Linked DNA regions of Homo sapiens. The protein of the gene in region 2 interacts with the protein of the main gene of each other region in a pairwise test. Each region holds a gene or a part of one and is shown on either strand. Other genes may lie near its edges.

Region 1 (4,539 bases), about 15 Mb from region 2:
CATTTCCCAATGCTTCCTTACTTTCTCTAACCCAGGCACTAGCACATTTTTTCTGTAAAGGGTCAGCAAAGTAAGAATTTTAGGCTTTTCAGACCATATAGTGTTTCAGAAGCCACTCAACTCAAATATTGTAGCACCAAAGCAGCATAGACAGCATGTGAGTGAATACGTGGTGTTGTGCTCCATTAAAACTTTATTTACAAGAACAGGCAGTAGGCTGGATTGGTCTGAGGACTGTAGTTTGTGGACCCCTGCCTCTAACCAGAAAACTATGAATGTTTGACTTTTCTTATCAGGAAGTCGAAGTTTCTGCAAAAGATGCCCTTTTCTCCTGTGTGGAAATATTAATGCTTCATGAAACTGAAACCCCATATCAAATAAAAATCATGATTTGAGGGACCAAAATTCAATACTTAAGAATTTAACTACAAAACAAATAAAGCTTTCCCCTCTTAATATATTTTAGTGTTACTATATACAGATTAAACCAGATGACAAGCTACTATACAACAGCATGTTAAAAAACATGTTTATTTTACAATATGTACAATCAGGAACATATTTTAAAACCATTATCATTAAAATAAATGAAGATCATAAATCACAATTTAGTTTGTTCTTAGTGTATATACTCACATTAAAATATAAAGAACATATACCAAAAAGAGCCAAAAGTGTGCATTTTGCTAAAACCTGGTATATACATATTCCATTGGAAAAAAGCAATCAAAAATGACTTAAACCAAAACTAAGTTCCTGTGATGTGTAGTAACCATTATATTGTTTGTATGAGGTAGTAACTAAATTATTTTGGCCATGTATTAATACTCTAAGTCAAAAGAAATATGAAAAGGATCATAAAATAAGGCCAACAAAAGTAAAAATTCCAAGAGAAATTTGAACCACTTCACTCTATGGAATGTTACAGTTCTTCAGTGTGATCATATGAAATGTTTAGTGAGGACTCTTTAATAATGCTAATTAATTCTTTGTGCATACTGTAATTCTGACCACAATTGCAGTATTCTATCATGGTACCGCTATTCTGTGATTCAAAAATGTTCAAAGGTATTGTTTTTAAGCAAAGACAAGCAATCTTACAGGATTCTGCTTAAATATAAAAAGACCAGTTACTACAACATGTGGTTAATTATAATTGGTTTGCTTCACATAGAAAACAATCCAAATACATTTGTGGAGCCAAATGCTTATAGACAATGTCACAGCTTACTTTTGTGACTTAATACATCACATATCAATACTTTGTGCAAATATAAACACCAGTGTACTTGCATTAAAATTAAAAAGATTATAAAATGATTACAGCCTCCATTACAATTTTAAAAGTTACAAGATTTATATTCATATTACTAAATTACATATAATAAAAATACAATAGTGTTAAATGTATTGTTTCATTGCCAGCATCCCATTTTGTAATATAGCCACACCCAAGAATATACTAAAGAATTCTTAAAATATTAACCCCAATTGCATTTTCATCAACATTTACATCTGTACAGATAAGACACTTACTTGTACATCTCATAAAAGTACATTATCTACATAAATTCTTAGTGTATGTCTTCAGCAATATGAAGTTTCACAGAAAAAATACTGCCTATATGTACAAAGATTACATAACAATGAATTAAGCACTTGTGTGGTTCAATATGCTAAATATATCCATACCACTTAAAACAAAATTTTCCCCATCTTATCTCATGCCACAATAAATTACAAAGTAACTGAAGACAGGTTACTGCAGCTTTTGTACAGCTTCAAGCATCCATTAATGTTGCAGTGGTAGTGTTCTTTCTTTCTAGAGTTAACTGTCAAAGCACAACAATTCTCAGTAACTGTTTTCATGACCCGCCAGGATGTACAAATTGCTATTTGCTGTGGGGTTATCAGTTGGCCTACTTTCCAAAACCACGACCCTGAAAGTAATAAAAAACATATAACAAAACAAAGTTATTCCTGAAAATTAATGTTAGCTCCCAAATTTTCCATTGCTTCTCCAATATGTGCCTCTATAAATGCTGCTCATTTGATCGTGGGCAGAAATCATTTGCTATCACTGTGATTACAGGGCCAGTTCTAGCTCTGGGAAGTAATTTTGCTGTCCACTACCTCCCACCTCTAGGCCAGTGTTCTTCTAAGAGTCAGAAGTGGGGAGAAACCTATATTAGAAATTATTTGGGGGAACTTAATTCTTATTACAAGTTCTAAAAACGATTTGCAGTTCAAGAACCAGAAGCTAAATTGCCAGGGTCTGACCCAGAGACCCACGCTGCACAATGGATGAATAACGTACCCAGACACTGGTATTCAGTGAAAGACTGGCTAGGGGGCCAGGGCGCTCACAGAAAGAGTTGTAGTGGCCGTGTGCCCTGACTAGCTGTCCCTGCAGGCATTTATTCAGCACAGATTTAATGACAAAGGCTTTGAGTCAACCTACTTGTGGGTAATTTATCAGGTTGCCCTCCCCAGGAAAGAGCAGTCCTGCCCGCATGATCAAAGGTTGGTTTTAGGACAACATGAGTAAACAAGCTATTTAGATAAACTCCTCTACATTCCTATGTATCTATGCCCTAAGCTTTTAAGAGAATTCAGCTGCCTTCAGCCAAATCTTTTACTGAAGCTATGCAAACCTTCTGGCCTTCCAAGAAGGTTTGTGTCTATTTCCTATAACTTTATAATCTCTCCCACCACCCTGACCAATGTCTTACAGTCAATCAGAACAGGTCTCCAAAATCCTATCGGCATTAACAACACAAAGTTCTGTTCATTAACATATGGTATTTCCTCTTTCTTCTGCTGCAAATCAGATGTCAGTATGTTTAATGGAAACTAGTACTGACAGATCCATACATTCCTGTTACTTGGAAGATCAGGTACATTTTCAAAGGCTAACTTTCTGACCTGTGAATTCTTATAGTGTGAAAAATTCAATGTTGAACATATTGCAGACATTTCAATTCTCTTGAAAAAGAAATCTGTTTCATGCTGGATCTATAAAACACGTTTAGTACTGTGTATTTAATACAGTCCGTTTTCATACCTGTCAGATCCAAGCAGCCTGAAAATTCTTGTGCTATCTGAAATTTCTTGTGTTACCTGTTCAATTAAAACACAAATTTAATTTCTGAAATTAAAGACACAAAATTTTTAATGGGCACTTCATTATAATTCAACAGAAAAGAAACATGATCGCTAAAAATGAAAACATATTCCTGCATGACTGTTTGTTAAAGTCAGCATGTAGATACATCAATTTGTTAGTCGAGGGGAAATGTGGTTAATTTTGAGTTAATCATAAAATGCAGGCAAAGGAAAATGATTTCCTTGTTAAATCATAAGACTTCAAGGGAAAAACTTAAAAGCAAAGCACTAAATCCATTTTATTTATTAGAAACTTTCATCATTTATGTTAACGCTAATGGCAAGGTTACTGGCAGCAGTAAGCTACTTAGATCTGCTTCTTTTACTTAAAAAGGCTGCCACGTAGTGTAACAGGAAATATTTAAAAGGCAGACATGCCTTGAGTTTGACTGTCAGTTCTCCCACTTACTGGGCAACGTATGTAATCCGCTAGAAATGGTTTTGCCTTATGCAAGATGGGATAGAAAAGATCTACCATGCAGTAGAGCCCTGCAGTGTTCTTATAAGGATTAGTGGGTATAATGCCTAGCTAAGGAAGTGCTCAATACATAATAATTATCTTTCCCACTTCTTCCCCATTCTCTTGAAATAATATTTTCTAATGACCATATATCCTTCAAGAAGTCCTCAGTGTGACCAACTACCAGTTGGGGAATTAAGAATAAATATACAAGAAAAAGAGAAACCAACTATTCACAGCTTACTGAACACAAAATATTATGAATTAGAAGGGCAGTTAGCATCTCCCCAAAATTTGGTAGGCTGAAGAAAAAATGGATTTGAAATTAAATTTATTCCATCAATACCCCTACAATTAGATTTTCTAGAAACACTAATGACTCTTAGCTTCTGTTGTAACCCAGCATACCTGCAGGAAACAACATGCTCAGCATGCTCACTTCAATGCCTGTGGCTCATCATGACTGTGATTACCAATATATTTTGGGGTTTGCCTACTAGAAGAAGCTAACATTTTTGGAGGTGTGTATTGATGGGCTGCCTGTGTAGTTCTCAGGTGACTTTTTGGGTGAACTTTTTCCTTTTAGTTTTTAAACCACTTCTGTATTTGTCTGTAATGCTTTTCTTTCTCTGACTAGTGTTTATTAGCTGTTGACTGTTCTTATCTCCCTGCTCAGTTCCTCACGTGATTTTAGAAAGTGTGAGCCCACTTGTGGGGATTACTTTTAGAAACATCGTAGCAGCCACCTTTTTTTTGGAGGGGGACGGAGTCTTGTTCTGTCGCCAGGCTGGAGTACAGTGACGCGATCTTGGCTCACTGGAACCTCCGCCTCCTGGGTTCAAGCGATTCTCCTGCCTCAGCCTCTCCCGAGTAGCTGGGACTAGAGGCACGCGCCACCACGCCTGGCTAATTTT
Region 2 (5,538 bases):
CCTGTAGTCCCAGCTACTTGGGAGGCTGAGGCAGGAGAATTGCTTGAACCCAGGAGGCGGAGGCTGCAGTGAGCCGAGATCACTCTGCTGCTCTCCAGCCTGGTGACAGAGCAAGACTTTGTCTCAAAATAAATAAATAAATAAATAATAAAATAATAAAAACTACTAGATGGCTCTCTATAACTTCCAGGGTATGGGGTCAGGCTCTTGAGGATGGTATTTAAGACCTTTTTACAGTTAATTCCACCCTACCTGTTTATTATTACTAACTCTAGTTATTAGTCTGCTCAGTGCACTTAACAGCACCTTGCACATGCCTTGACTTCTCATGCTGTGCCCTTATGGTGTGAAATGTTCTTATCCCTCCTCTTCACGTGGCAAAATTCAAACCAAGCTTCAAGGCTCTGCCTCAGTGTTACCTTTCCTGTTATCTCATCCTTGGTGCTTCTAACTCAGAATTGGCACAGCTGTTTTGGTATCTGTATTAGTCTGTTTTCACACTGCTATAAAGAACTAGCTGAGACTGAGTAATTTATGAAAAAAAGGGTTTAATTGACTCACAGTTCCACATGGCTGGAGAGGCCTCAGGAAACTTAAGGTGTAAGGCGAAGGGGATGCAAAGCACATCTTAACGTGGCAGCAGGAGAGAGAGAAGCAGCAAGGGGGGAAGTGCCACACTTTAAAACCATCAGCTATTGTGAGGAACTCACTCATTATCACAAAAACAACAAGGGAGAAATCAACTCCCATGATCCAGTCATCTCCCACCAGGCCCCTCCTCTGACACGTGGGGATTACAGTTCGAAATGAGGTTCTGGTGGGGACACAGGGCTAAACTATGGCAGTATATAGTTCTGCTTAGGATTTTTCACAGGTGAATACTGTAAGTACTGTTGTTTTCTAGAGCATGAATTCCTTGAGGGTGGGAATATTTTCTTCATCTTTTTATTGCCAGTATTTAGCTTGATGCCCATTTCCAGTGAGTGTGATATAGCACTTGTTCAATAGACGTTAATTGAGCCAATGAGTGAAAAGCCTTAGGGCTGTGCTATGTATGGTTATGATAGAGCTCTACTCTTTGTGTCACTCAAATATTAAATACTGTCATACAATGAACACTTGTGATTTCTATTTACATTTTAGAATTGTATTTTAAGCATTCTCATGTATACACTATAGTTTCTTCCACTTATGTTTCAGGAGGGCCAAACATGTGGGCTATTACCTCTGAAGAACGTACTAAGCATGACAGGCAGTTTGATAACCTCAAACCTTCAGGAGGTTACATAACAGGTTTGTATTTATAATTAGTTTTATTAGTGAATTATGGTCCTTATGTGATATCTAAGAATTAGTTTTAATTTGACTGCCATCAAATTTGTGTTAATAAACGATAAAATTCATATCAATCAGAATTCTAGAAATTAAAGAAATGCTAACTTTATTTTTCCTGGAACTGTCTTAATTTGTTGTTTTAAATTTGGGATATGGAAGATTTTTCCTGAATCCTAAATGATAGTCAAGAATTTCTGTGTAATTGTCTGGTTTCACATTTTAACATTATATCTAGAAAGTTTTCAGTTTATTTCTTAGATTCATTTCATGGAAAATCTAGACTTTTTTTTTCTGGAATCTGTTTTCCTAATGCTAGCCCTCTGTCTTTGAGGCTACACCAAGCACTGATTGTTGATGCTAGCCCTTGTTTTGCAGAAAGACCACCAGAGCCAAAATGGGATTAATTTAGGTGTGCCTTTGAAATTTTTTTCTATTAATTAAACTTTTTTCTGTGCCAAAGTAGCTTAGTGCTTTACATACAATAATAGTAACTATGAGAACAATGATATTTATTGAATTTTTACTATATACCAGATGCTATGCTAAGTGCATTATTTTATTTAACCTTTACAACAACCCTGTAAAGTAGGCACTGTTGTTGTCTATATTTACAAATAGTGAAACTGAGACTAAGAGACGTTATGTAACTGCCTAAGGTTACAAAGATGGTTAGTGTTAATCTGGGCTTTGAAACCATTTGGGCTGATTTTGGAATCCATCTACTTAACCATGTTATTTGTACTGCTATGATAGTAATTACCTTACCTGGTATCAGGATTTGATTACCCTGCTTACAGGTTAATAACTTTGTCCATTACGGGTGGAAGACCCAAGATTCCTGAGTCAGAGACAAAGAACCTTATGACTAACAGCATAACTAGCAAAATGAGCATTGGCATCTATCTTTCTGTTTCCTTTAGTGTTCCCTAAGTCCCACAGAGACAATGCAGAGAGCCCAGGAGAATAGTACACATGCTATGATTGTGTTACAGGAGAGGAACACTGAATTTGGGGAACCCACCCTTTTGTAGCAAGCAGTAAAGCAAGTTTGTCCCTTGTCTCAGTGGGAAACGTTACCGGATTCGTTAAGATTGCTCATTACAAACCCAATTCTGAGAAGTGACCCAGGCAGAGAGCAATTAGGGTCTTACATTATTGGTATACAGAGCAAGACACATAGGAGTGTGAAGAAACTCATGGAGGACTCTCTCTCCTAACACCTGGTACTTTTTATATTGAAACTCTTTTAGGGAATAGTGTTTTTAAATATAAATTTTACTAAGTGGAAGTATTTTTAAGGAAGACCCCAATTGTGGAAAAACTGAGATGAATCATCTTTCATCACTGATTAATATACAATAGAAGTGCAGATGTGACTTTTGTTTTAAAATATCTGTCTTATTAAAGTTATGTAAATAATTTTTATGTGTTTCTATTTCACTTATTCTTTAATGATTGGTATTAAAATTATAATAAATCATTAACATATACCCATTATTATTCAGAAGCATTGGAATAATTTCATTTACTAATGTGCTGCTTGGGTTTTGTTTTTATTACCTCCAGGTGATCAAGCACGTAATTTTTTCCTACAATCAGGTCTGCCGGCCCCTGTTTTAGCTGAAATATGGTAAAGTGTTTTGTAGATGAACCTAATTTTCTGATAGTATTTTGTTTTTTTGTAATATAGTGTTAACATAAAATTGTTTTTAGTTGCATTCTATTGGTTATTAAGAATATTTCTGCCAGCACTTTGGGAGTCTGAGGTAGGAGGATTGCTTGAGGCCAGGCTGGGCAACATAGTGAGAACCCTGTCTCTACAGAAAATTAAAAAAAAAATTAGCTGGGTGTGGTGGCCACACCTCTAGTCCCAGCTACTCAGGGAGGCCAAGATGGAAGGATTGCTTGAGCCCAGGAATTCAGTGCTGCAGTGAACTATGATTGTGTCACTGCACCCTAGCCTGGATGACAGAATGAGACTCTCTTTAGAAAAAAAAAAAAAAAAAAGGTATTTCTTCAGTTTTTTGGAAAATAAATTTTATTGAGCAAATTATTGAAAATAATTCAGGTTTAGTTCTCTAGGACAAATTTCTAATTTCATTAGAATTTTCTAAGGAAAGATATATACATTATCATTGAGAAAAATTTCCTTATAATTTGGCAGAATCTCAAAATCCTCTTTCTGTTATTTTGTAGTTTCATTTATTTCATAATCTATAAACCCCAAATTAGTCCTCGCTTCCCCTGCTCCTTCTTTAAAGAAACTATTCTCTATAATATCTGTTTTTTTAAAAACGTTTACAATAAGTAACAACCCCTGTCCCATCTTTCCACTTGGAATATTCTCATGCCTGGTAGAGTACGAGGCACATAGCAAGTATTCAGTAAATATTTGGACAGATGAATAAATTAAATTTAGAAGTATTATAATCTTGAATTTTTTTCTACCTAAACTGGTGGAATTCAGCCCAAAGGTCTCTAGATTCTGTTTTGACAGGCAGTGTTTTATTAGTTATTATCTCTGGTCAGTATTTCTTAAAGTGTAGGTTTTATCTTTTTGTTATTATATATTTTACATGTTAGATATTTTAAATTTAGTGATGATGTACACGTGAATGCCATATCATCATTTTTACTTTGTCAATCCCCAAAATAACGTTAGTTTTCCCACCACCACACCACATAGCAATCTACCTACCTCATGCTCCTTTTAGGGCTTTATCAGACCTAAACAAGGATGGGAAGATGGATCAGCAAGAGTTCTCCATAGCTATGAAACTCATCAAACTGAAGCTTCAAGGCCAACAGTTGCCTGTGGTTCTCCCTCCTATTATGAAGCAACCCCCTATGTTTTCTCCATTAATTTCTGCTCGTTTTGGTAAGTATGTATTAATTTAAATACCTGTATTTGCTACTTAAACTTTATCCCTAGGCATATTTGAGTATTAGAAAAGGATTTGTTAGCACAAAATGACAGTCCCCAGATTCCAAGTTAATTTTCATGTTAGAGATAATAAATATTAAATTCACTGTCACAGGTAGGGGATCCATGTGTTCTGGTTTTCTAGGGACAGTTCTGATTTATGCCTTTTGTCCTGGCATCTGGTCCAGTTAGTGTCTCCTTTTACAACTCCTAGTTGCGTGATGAATTATATGGTCTCCCTAGGTATAGCCAATCCCAAATACTATTCTTAGTTTCCTCTCTCTCTATATATATGTGAGTAATACAGAAAAAATTTTGAGCAGTTTTAAACTCACTTGAAATGGTTCGATTTGGGAGATAATTTAAAATTTTATGTAAGTTGAATTTTTTTAAAGGTTAATTAGCCAGCTAAATTTAGGGCCAAAAGTTGCAGACTTTGGGCTAATAAGTTCACGTATTCATCAGCGATAACCGGTTGGTATGTTTTCTGTTAATTTTGATCAGGCAATTTCTTATAATTATATGTGAGAAGCACTCATTTTGAATGGAACATTCAATTAGGTATGTCTATGTATCTGAAACATGTTCCTTCACTACAGATCTTAGAATATAGAATTCTAGAGCTGGTTATAGGGGTGTGTGCCTGTAGTTCTGGCTGCTTGGGAGGCTATGGGTAGGATTGCTTGAGTCCAGGAGTTTGAGGTTGTACTGTGCTATGATCGCACCTGTGAATAGCCACTTCATTCTAGTCGGGGCAACATAGTGAGACCCCCATCTCAAACAAACAACAGACTCCACAAAATTATTTCACTATTTTAGTGAATTCTAAAGATAAATACTAAATCATTGTGTGACCATATTTATAAGTATTCTGCAGTTAATAAATGAATAAAAGTCATCACTTTGTTCCTTTTAAGAACTCGTCCTTGAATTCATAGGAATGTTACTTACAAGAAAAGTAAAATATGTGACACACTTTCTTGCAAATAATGCATATGCATAAATGGATCTCATAAAGTATCTACTACTTAGAACCTTTTTGTTTGGGGGGAGTATGTGAGAGAGAGAGAGAAGAAGAATGTGTGTGTGTGTGTGTGTGTGTGTATTAGTCAAGTAACTTAGTAGCACTGTATTATCCTTTCACAAAAACCTCATTTGATCTGGTAATGTATTCTTTCCTTGAGGAGACTCATATTCAATTGGAAAAGGCTGCTTAGTTTTATTCATGATGAGAGAGGAGAATATTTAACTCTTTGCTAGGTGTTTTCTTAGTTCATACA
Region 3 (4,519 bases), on a different chromosome or scaffold from region 2:
ACTACTATATTTTCTAATTCTATACATTTCTTATTGCTTATCTGTCCTGTCATTCTGCCCTTGAATATTACACACACAAAAAAATCAAGCTGACAAAAAGCTATTAGACTACTTTTTACTACTAAAATGAAGAAAATTAATTTTATGAATCTGGCTCACACTGAAAGAATATTTATTAACACTACCAATCAGAGATCCAATGACAGAAACACTGTCTGGAATACAAAAAGAACAAAAAATGAGGTCATTTGAATTGCCCTGAAAAACTCCAAATTCTTCAAGATGGTGTACTTGTATCTATATTCTGAAGTACTAGTGTTTTAATTTTAACTAAAAATTAAATAAGAGTTTGTTTTTTTTTTTTTGAGACGGAGTCTTTCTCTGTCACCCATGCTGGAGTGCAGTGGCACAATCTTGGCTCATTGTAACCTCCACCTCCCAGGTTCAAGCAATGCTCCTGCCTCAGCCTCCCGAGTAGCTAGGATTACAGGCGCACACCACCACGCCAGGCTAATTTTTGTATTTTTAGTAGAGATGGGGTTTCACCAAACTGCTGGCCATGCTGGTCTTGAACTCCTGACATCAGGTGATATGCCCGCCTTGGCCTCCCAAAGTGCTGGGATTACAGGCATGAGCCACAGCACCTGGCCGTAAATGAGAGTTTTTATGTGCAAGTAAAGGCAGTTAAATAACTTTCAGTAATAAAATGCATCACAATATTTCACAGGTTTAAAACACAACCTGGTTACCTTTTTGAATAAAATAACATTTGGAAGAAGGCATAGCTACTTTTAAAAGCTATTCTATGCTTTCCTTGTGTTTGAAATTTCAAGAAAAAATAAAATGATAAATCACAAAATTAAAAATGCCAAATTCAAGTTAATTCCTATAATTCTTCCATTTTGTTATGAATATTCTGTAATATCAAACATTCATTTTTAATGTGCTAAAAATATGGGTTTACAAAATATGAACAGGTAATTTTTAAAGAGTAAATTATGTTAAGAACTTTATTATTTTCGATTCATTTTATAGGGTAGTAAAATAATACTTCTTCAAAATCATTTAAATGTTATTGATGCCATTGCAAAATCATTATAAATAAATTTTCTCCATTATCCAATCACATCTAGATAACATTGAATATGTACAGGTTTCTCTGGATAGGTACCAAAAGGTACCACATTTTATACAGACTTAATTGTGAAAGCTGGGTGAAATAAATTTTCAGATCAAAATTTTTTTTAAGTTTAAATCATTCACTCTTTAAATTTCAGACAGTGTCAGTGTGACTCTTACTTTTAAAGGAAAAAAATTAGTTTAAAATTTAATAGCCACAGATTTAATAATTTTTTACTTTAACACTTAATGTACATTTTCATGAGCAGTAATTAAGATATGTTGAAATTTTAAATGTGAAAGATTTCAAAGTTTCAGTATGTTAACATTACTCTTCAAATGTTCTTAATATATATATAAACACTTACAAATTATAGATACAACTAGTTGTATATCTACAATACATATATGAACACCATTCTTCTTCTCTAGCCATATTTATATGAGGATAAAGTAATAAATCTCTGTGCTATTCAAGGAAAAAAAATGAATGCTTTAAAAAATAAATCTTTAAAGAATAGTTTCAAAAATAAAGTTCAAATATTGCACAAAATAATTTAACTGTAAATATTACTACATAGTGTAAAACAATTTTAAAAAAATTTTTACACTCTACAGTAAATCCCACTTTCTAATTCTATAAAAGAATTTATTGGAAGTCCACATTAAATGTTTAGATATTAAATGCTTACATTCAGTTTGATGGGAATTCAATTTTCACAAGTTAACTGAGACTTTGTCTTAAAAGTTCATCTATTTGAGTTTTGTACATATTTTTTACATCTTCGAGATCTAATCGAAGTTCTTCTGCCTCTTCTGCTTTTTCTCCATACATCTGCAGAATAGTGTTGTACCTTTGATCCAAATCCTGAAAAATGTATTTGTTTACAATTTTTAAAATAACTACACAGAACATCTTTAATATTTATATTGCCATAGGAGTCAACAATGAAAACACTACAATTTAAATAAAAGTATATACTCATCTCTTTTAAAAATTAAACTCACACTTCAGTCTATGTTGAACTAAATAGCAAAAAAAGGAATTAAAGAAAAAAACCAAGCTAGATGGCTATCAATTTTACCCTATCTCTCCACTAAATCTACAATTCTCCCCATATATGACTTCTCTCCCATTAATGTAAGCACACTTGATATAAAATTTAGTCTCTTTGTTCCATGGTGGTATAAGTATTACCCGGCATTTAGCCCACACCACAGGAAAGATCAAAAGAAAACATATTCTCACTTATGGCTTAACAGTGTCTTCTAACATCCAGATGAGACAATTGTGATGATACATATAACAACAATCAACAAAATATTACTAAGATCATACAAAGTTCAATGTTATAAATGAAGTGTAGCCAAATGAAATCTAGTTCTTTTCCTATACTGGGACTAAACATGATTGTGAAAATTACTTTGAATATGTAAAGATACAAGCAAGATAAAAGATTCATTTTTAAACTTCTTTGCTCAAATATTAGTACTCTTTAATTTTCAAATAAATCACTAACACATACTATAAATTAAAAACATGAGATTTAAAGTAAATGAACTAAAATATCTTAGACTCATCCTTAGGTGAAGAATACTTACTCTTAGCTGAGTTCTAAGTTTGGGTATCTCCTTCACCTTCTCTTCAAGTTCATCATTTTGATTTGTTAATTTAACTAGTTCTTCAGCCATTATTGATCGAGTTTTTTCTAGATTGCCAATTTCTAGCTGAGAAGCATTACCACAAAATAGTTTAAATCAAAACATATCTTTTTTAATACTCCCAGTAATATAAAAATATTTAATGTGTGTGTGGTTTTTTTTTTTTTTTTGAAATAGACATGTCAACATATAACCTTGAGCTAGCTCTTTCTTAAGTAAAGGAAACAGTGGCAGAAAAACGGTCCCAACTTTCCTGAGAGGTATACCGTTTATAAGGTTTACTGTGCAACAGAGATAAATCCAATTATTTGTTTGAAAACATTCAACCATATATTTTTCTAATCTAAGGAAATGACATATATTTCAGTTATTCTAAATTACTACAAGAACCCAGAGAAATAAAAATATACTTTAACGTAGCCCCACCTGTGTAGGTTGTATCGACAGAGGCTTTCATCACTACCAAAGAAATTAATTAGGTCCCTGTATAGCATACCAGCTATACAAACATCTGGGATTCAGATTAGTCTGATCTACTTTTTGCCAATTCAAGTTCTTTAATATTTTCATATAACTAAAAGTATATAATGGGAGTTGAATTTTTACCTACTTCTGAGTGTATTGTGTTTAACACTGAAAAGAGGTATCCTGATTCAAAATGCTTGAGACCAGGAATGTTTCAAATTTCTTTTTTTTTTTTTTTTTTTTTCAGATTATGGAATAATTGCATTATGTACTTACTGGTTGAGCATCCCAAATCTGGAAATCCAAAATGCTCAATTGAGCTTTTCCTTTGAGCAGCATGTCAGCACTCAAAGTTTTGGATTTGGGGGCATTTCAGATTTCAGAGCTGGGATGCTCAAACCTGTAAAACATTTCAATATTTCTGACTGCATAAAGTTTTTTAAAAGCCAAAAAGGTAAGATGGAAGGATGCTCCATCAACAACTCATGTTGTTTCCTCCCATGTACAGGGTGTTACAGTTCAAACATCTCATCCCCTTTACCCCTCCTTCCCGGGGTAGCTGGAACAACTTATCTAAGAGGTAAATCTGAATAGAACAGGCATTCACAGCTCAGTGACTTCCCTTTATTCTGTTGGGAAAGAGCTGCTTGAAAGGAGGAGGGATTCTCTGCTCCTAGATGCTTATGTCTTATGTAGGCAGGTTGTAAAACATGGGAGGCCTGCTCCAGCCCAGCATTTCCTGTGACAGATCAGCCGAATATGCCTAATTCTGGCAATTAGCAGGTTCAGTTGGCTGTTATCCTTAGCTAATTTCTCTTTTTAGCCTTTATCATTGATATATGTGATACATTTTGGGCTTCACATGCCACTATGTCATCTTGTTTCTCAATTTGCTCAGAATTCAGATGGAAATGAAGGGTGCTATTTATTAGGCCTCAAAACTTCATTTACTTCTATAGCAAATTTAATTTTTCCAATACCTGTAAATGAGTGATTTCCCCTTCCCTTAGCTTTAGCTGAGACTGTAGGTTTTCAATTATGCTTGATCCTGCTCCCATCCTTACAGCATCATAAAGATTGCTTCCATTTGCTGATATAGGCATTGGTCCAAATGAGTGATCATGAGACTCATCCTATGTTAATTAAGAAAGTTCACACAGTTACTCAGTTATCATAGCTTGTCTTCCATTACCAGGTTCGAACAAAAATGGTTCTGTCAATTTTTGCTTTAAATGTCTTCTCAAAGGCAGAAAATCATTCACGTGTTTCCTCT
Region 4 (4,519 bases), on a different chromosome or scaffold from region 2:
AAGCTAAGGGCTGGGCGCAGTGGCTCACTTGAGGTCAGGAGTTTGAGACCAGCCTGGCCAACACGGCGAAAACCCGTTTCTACTAAAAATACAAAAATTAGCCAGATATGGTGGCACATGCCTGTAATTCCAGCTAGTCAGGAGGCTGAGACACAACAATCACTTGAACCTGGGAGGAAGAGGTTGCAATGAGCAGAGATTGCACCACTGCACTCCAGCCTGGGCGAAAGAGCAAGGCTCTGTCTCAAAACACAAACAAACAAATAAATAAATAAAGGCCAAGAAGCTGTTTGTGGAGGGTATGTCTCAAAGTCTAATGATACAACGATATGGGAGCCAAAATTCCCATGTCCAATAAGGCCCCAGAGAGCTGTCACGGTCTCCCTCACTCTAAAATTTCAGTTATGCTAATTATAACGAGATTACACAACCTCTTCTTTTTCCAGGGTTCCTAAATTCCCTCCTCACCCAGCTTAGGCTCCATTATTGCAATCACTCCCTCACATACACCCTTCCCTTCCTGCCCCACTCTCCCTTAGAGTCGCACATGCCTAAAACATGCTAACGCTGGTTAAACACAGCTCTACTCTTTTTCTGTACCTGCAAATCACAACTGAACACATGAGACTAATTAATCTCACATGAAATGTATGGCCCATAATCTCAAGTGGGCCCTTCGCGTGGTTGCCTATCTGAGCACACTTCCCTAGTCCACCCACACTCCCACGCTCCAGATGACCATTTCATGCCTCTTCTCTCTCCTCAACTCTCCTTCTCCTTCCCTCGCCTCAATCACAGCTGATGCTCTTGCTTTCCATTTCACTGAGAAAACAGAAGCAAATTAGAATAAACTTTCCACATGCTTCTACCACTACACCCACCTACCCACTTGCTTCTAAGCCTATATGCTCTGCCTCCCCTCTTGTTACTATGGAAGAACTATGTTCCTATCTAAGGCCAACCCTTTTTATCTATCGATCACATTCTCTTTTCTCTGGCCTCCTCCAGGTCATTATTCAGGCAATCTGTTCCCTCTCTTCTGATTCAATTTTTTCCCTCTCTCCTAAGTTTCATGCTACTCATTCCATCAGCATACAAATAGGTCTCCCATCTTGGGATGGGAAAAAAACAACTCTCAACCCCACATCTTCGTCCAACAATCACTTCACTTATCTTCACCCCTCTCTCCTGGACTTTACAGCGAACTCTTTAAGAGATTTCTATATTGCTATCTCCAATTTCTCTCCTCCTATTCCTGCATTCTTGAACCCACTCCAATTAAGCTTTCACTTTCACCCTCCACCACTCCACTGAAACTACTCAAAAGGGTCCCATGATACTAAGACCAATGCCAGTTCTTGGTCTTTAACTTACCTGACCCATCTGCAGCACTGGGCACAGCTGACCACTTACTCTACCTTGGAGTTTTTCCATCACATTCTTGGTTTTTCTCCTTCCATCCTCACTAGAAGCTTTTCTGTTTCCTCTGCTGGGTATTCTTCATCTCTTTTGCCTCTAATGTAGGAGGGCGAGGGCTCAGCCCTCATTTTTTTTTTTTTTTTTTTTGAGATGGACTGTCACTCTGTCGCCCAGGCTGGAGTGCAGTGGCGTGATCTCGGCTCACTGCAACCTCTGCCTCCTGAGTTCAAGCGATTCTCCTGCCTCAGCCTCCTAGGCCTCTTCTTATCTATATTCACTCCTTAGGTGACTTCATCCAGCATGTGGTTTTCAACACCATTCAAATGTATCTCTCTAGCCGAAACCTCTCCCCTCAACTTTGGAGTCTGATAGCCAATTACCAATTCATTGTCTCTTCTTGATTACCTAACAGGCATCTCAAACTTGTCTCAAACTGAACACCTATCTTCCCACAAATTCACAGTAGTCCTAACCATCTGGCCGTTTACTGCAACAGCCCAGTAACTGGTCTCCTTTTGTCACCTTTGTCCTCCTGCGGTCTGTTCTCAACATAGGAGTTAATGATCTTTTTAAAAGGTGAATCAAATCATACTACTTCTCTGTTTAAAACCCTCCAGTGGCTTCCCATCTCACACAGTTAAATCCAAGGTCTTTGCAAAATCCTGCAGTGCGCTCTCCCCTGCAGCTCCAGCTTTCCAACCTCCAAGTCCTACCACTCTTCCCTCCCCTCACTCTTTGTAGTCTTGCCACAATGGCCCCCTTGCTGTCCCCAAAATGTTTCAAGAATACTTCTGCCTTATGGCCTCTGCATTTGTTGTTCCCACTGCCTGCAACAGCTGTTCTCCTAGATAACTACTAAGCTTACTCGTCACTTTCTTAAGGTCTTTGTCAAATTTTCACCGTATCAGTAAGGACTGTCCTGACTCTCTCCCCACTCCTCCAATTAAAGATATCATCATCCCGACCTCCGCCCCAGTATATCTTATTCCTCTCCTCTGCTTTGTAATTCTCTAAAGCATACTGCATACTATGTATTTATATATTTTACTAGTTTGACTGTCAAATTTTTTTGTCTTTTCTATTTATTGCTATTTCCCTACCAACAGACCTGACACATAAAAAGGTACTCAATAAACCCACTGAGTGAATAAACGAATTACTGTCTTCAAGGAGTGCTCTGGGGAAAGATAAAATCAACTCACAGCATGATAGGGAAAAAGGTGCTTCCAAGCACTTACCTGCTCCCCGACTGGGAGGGTCTCGGGCTGGGGGAGGTGGCCTATTACTCAGTAAAGATGGGGAGGCCGAGGTGGGTGGAGGAGGTGCTAGGCCTCTGACAGGCCCTGGTGTCTTCCTATGCAAAGAATTGTGTCTCTGTGGCAGCTCAGGGGCTGACTCATTAGTGGGGCTAGAGGGTCCATTGGGGACCCCAGGAGGCTGGCGGTAAGGCGGAGGAGGAGGAGCCAGAGACTGGCCACTTGGTCCTGTTCTGATATTCACAGGGGAAGGAGGTGGTTTGACTGGGGGTGGAGCAGGAGGTCCCTCTCGACCAGGGTGAAGCCTTTGTCCAGGCGTCGGTGGCAAGGGTTTCTCTCTGTTGTAGGCGGGGGCTTTGCTGCTGTGCATAGGCAGAGGTGTGGGGGGTGCGTTGGCACGCCGCCCTGGGGGTGGTGGGGGAGGGGCAGAGGAGCTGTGCTTCATGCCCGTACTGCTGGTGGTATTAGGCCGAGAGAGGTCCGGTAAAGAGGGTCTCTGCATCCGGGGCAGTTCTGGGAGTGAGGCCCGGCTGCTGTCTGTATCATCCTGAGGACGCCCGCTGGCGGCAGATACTGGAGGCCTTGGGGCAGCAGCTCGAGAACTGGGGATTTGCAGGGCTGGCTTACCAGCTAGGTTCTCTACAAATACATAGACAACACAGGGTCAACAGAGCTGGACAGATATTGGTCAGTATCCCTACTTCACTCGGCTCCTTAGTGCAACCTGCATGGCAGCAGGGAAAGGAATTGAATAATTCTGGGTTTTTTGTTTTTCTTTTTTTTTTTTTTTTTTTTTTTTTTTGAGACGAAGTTTCGCTGTTGTTGCCTAGGCTGGAGTGCAATGGTGCAATCTCAGCTCACTGCAACCTCTGGGTTCAAGTGATTCTCCTGCCTCAGCCTCCCGAGTAGCTGGGATTACAGGTGTGCGCCACCACACCTGGCTGATTTTTGTATTTTTAGTAGAGATGGGGTTTCACCACGTTGGACAGGCTGGTCTCGAAATCCCAACCTCAGGTGATCTGCCCACCTCGGCTTCCCAAAGTGATGGGATTACAGGCGTGAGCCACCACGTCCGGCCTAGTTCTGGGTTTTAATACGGTTTCAGGCTCAGGATACACTGTTATTTATTTTAAATGTTACTTTATTTTTGACAAGTAATAATTTTATGTATTTATGGGGTACAATGTCTCGTTATATGTATACGTTGTGGAATGATTAAATCAAACTAACATATCCATCACCTCACATATTTTTTTTAATGGTGAAAACACTTAAAATCTACTCTACAACAGGCGCAGTGGCTCATGCCTGTAATCCCAGCACTTTGGGAGGCCAAGGTGGACAGATCACTTGAGGTCAGAAGTTTGAGACCAGCCTGGCCAACATGGTGAAACCCCGTCTCTACTAAAACTACAAAAATTAGCCAGGTGTGGTGGCCTGTGCCTGTAATCCCAGCTACTTGGGAGGCTGAGGCAGGAGAATGGCTTGAACCCAGGAGGCGGAAGTTGCAGTGAGCCAAGATGGCACCACTGCACTCCAGCCTGGGCGACAGAGCAAGACTCCATTTGCGGGGGGGGGGGGGACGAATAAATAAAATAAAATAAAATAAAATATACTCTTTTAGCAATTTTGAAATATACATTAAGTATAATAAGGGGTCGCCAACCCCTGGGGCCATGCACCTGTACAGGTCAGTGGCCTGTTAGGAACAGGGCACACAGAAGGTGAGCGAGCAAGCATTACTGCCTGAGCAACGCCTACTGTCAGACCAGCAGCAGCATTAGATTCTCATAGGAGGGCGAACCCCATTGTGAACCGTGCATGTGAGGGATCTAGGTTGCATG

The links. Proteins that work in one complex are often made in the same cells at the same time.
Region 1: the proteins of ITSN2 (region 2) and MAP4K3 interact in a two-hybrid assay, tested with the Homo sapiens proteins (one large-scale study listed by BioGRID and IntAct).
Region 3: the proteins of ITSN2 (region 2) and TMF1 interact in a two-hybrid assay, tested with the Homo sapiens proteins (one large-scale study listed by BioGRID).
Region 4: the proteins of ITSN2 (region 2) and WIPF2 interact in a two-hybrid assay, tested with the Homo sapiens proteins (one large-scale study listed by BioGRID).

What each region holds. Positions count from the first base shown.
Region 1 is NC_000002.12:39,248,766-39,253,304, forward strand, and holds the end of MAP4K3 (mitogen-activated protein kinase kinase kinase kinase 3), read right to left. Parts: intron 3,121-4,539; coding exon 3,065-3,120; exon of another isoform or gene 3,060-3,064; intron 1,941-3,059; coding exon 1,853-1,940; 3' UTR 501-1,852; downstream 1-500. UniProt on the Homo sapiens protein: Serine/threonine kinase that plays a role in the response to environmental stress. Appears to act upstream of the JUN N-terminal pathway.
Region 2 is NC_000002.12:24,310,887-24,316,424, reverse strand, and holds part of ITSN2 (intersectin-2), read left to right. Parts: intron 1-1,200; coding exon 1,201-1,293; intron 1,294-2,901; coding exon 2,902-2,965; intron 2,966-4,049; coding exon 4,050-4,213; intron 4,214-5,538.
Region 3 is NC_000003.12:69,021,334-69,025,852, forward strand, and holds part of TMF1 (TATA element modulatory factor), read right to left. Parts: intron 4,380-4,519; coding exon 4,227-4,379; intron 2,848-4,226; coding exon 2,722-2,847; intron 1,988-2,721; coding exon 1,844-1,987; 3' UTR 1-1,843. UniProt on the Homo sapiens protein: Potential coactivator of the androgen receptor. Mediates STAT3 degradation. May play critical roles in two RAB6-dependent retrograde transport processes: one from endosomes to the Golgi and the other from the Golgi to the ER.
Region 4 is NC_000017.11:40,263,285-40,267,803, reverse strand, and holds part of WIPF2 (WAS/WASL-interacting protein family member 2), read right to left. Parts: intron 3,315-4,519; coding exon 2,658-3,314; intron 1-2,657. UniProt on the Homo sapiens protein: Plays an active role in the formation of cell surface protrusions downstream of activated PDGFB receptors. Plays an important role in actin-microspike formation through cooperation with WASL.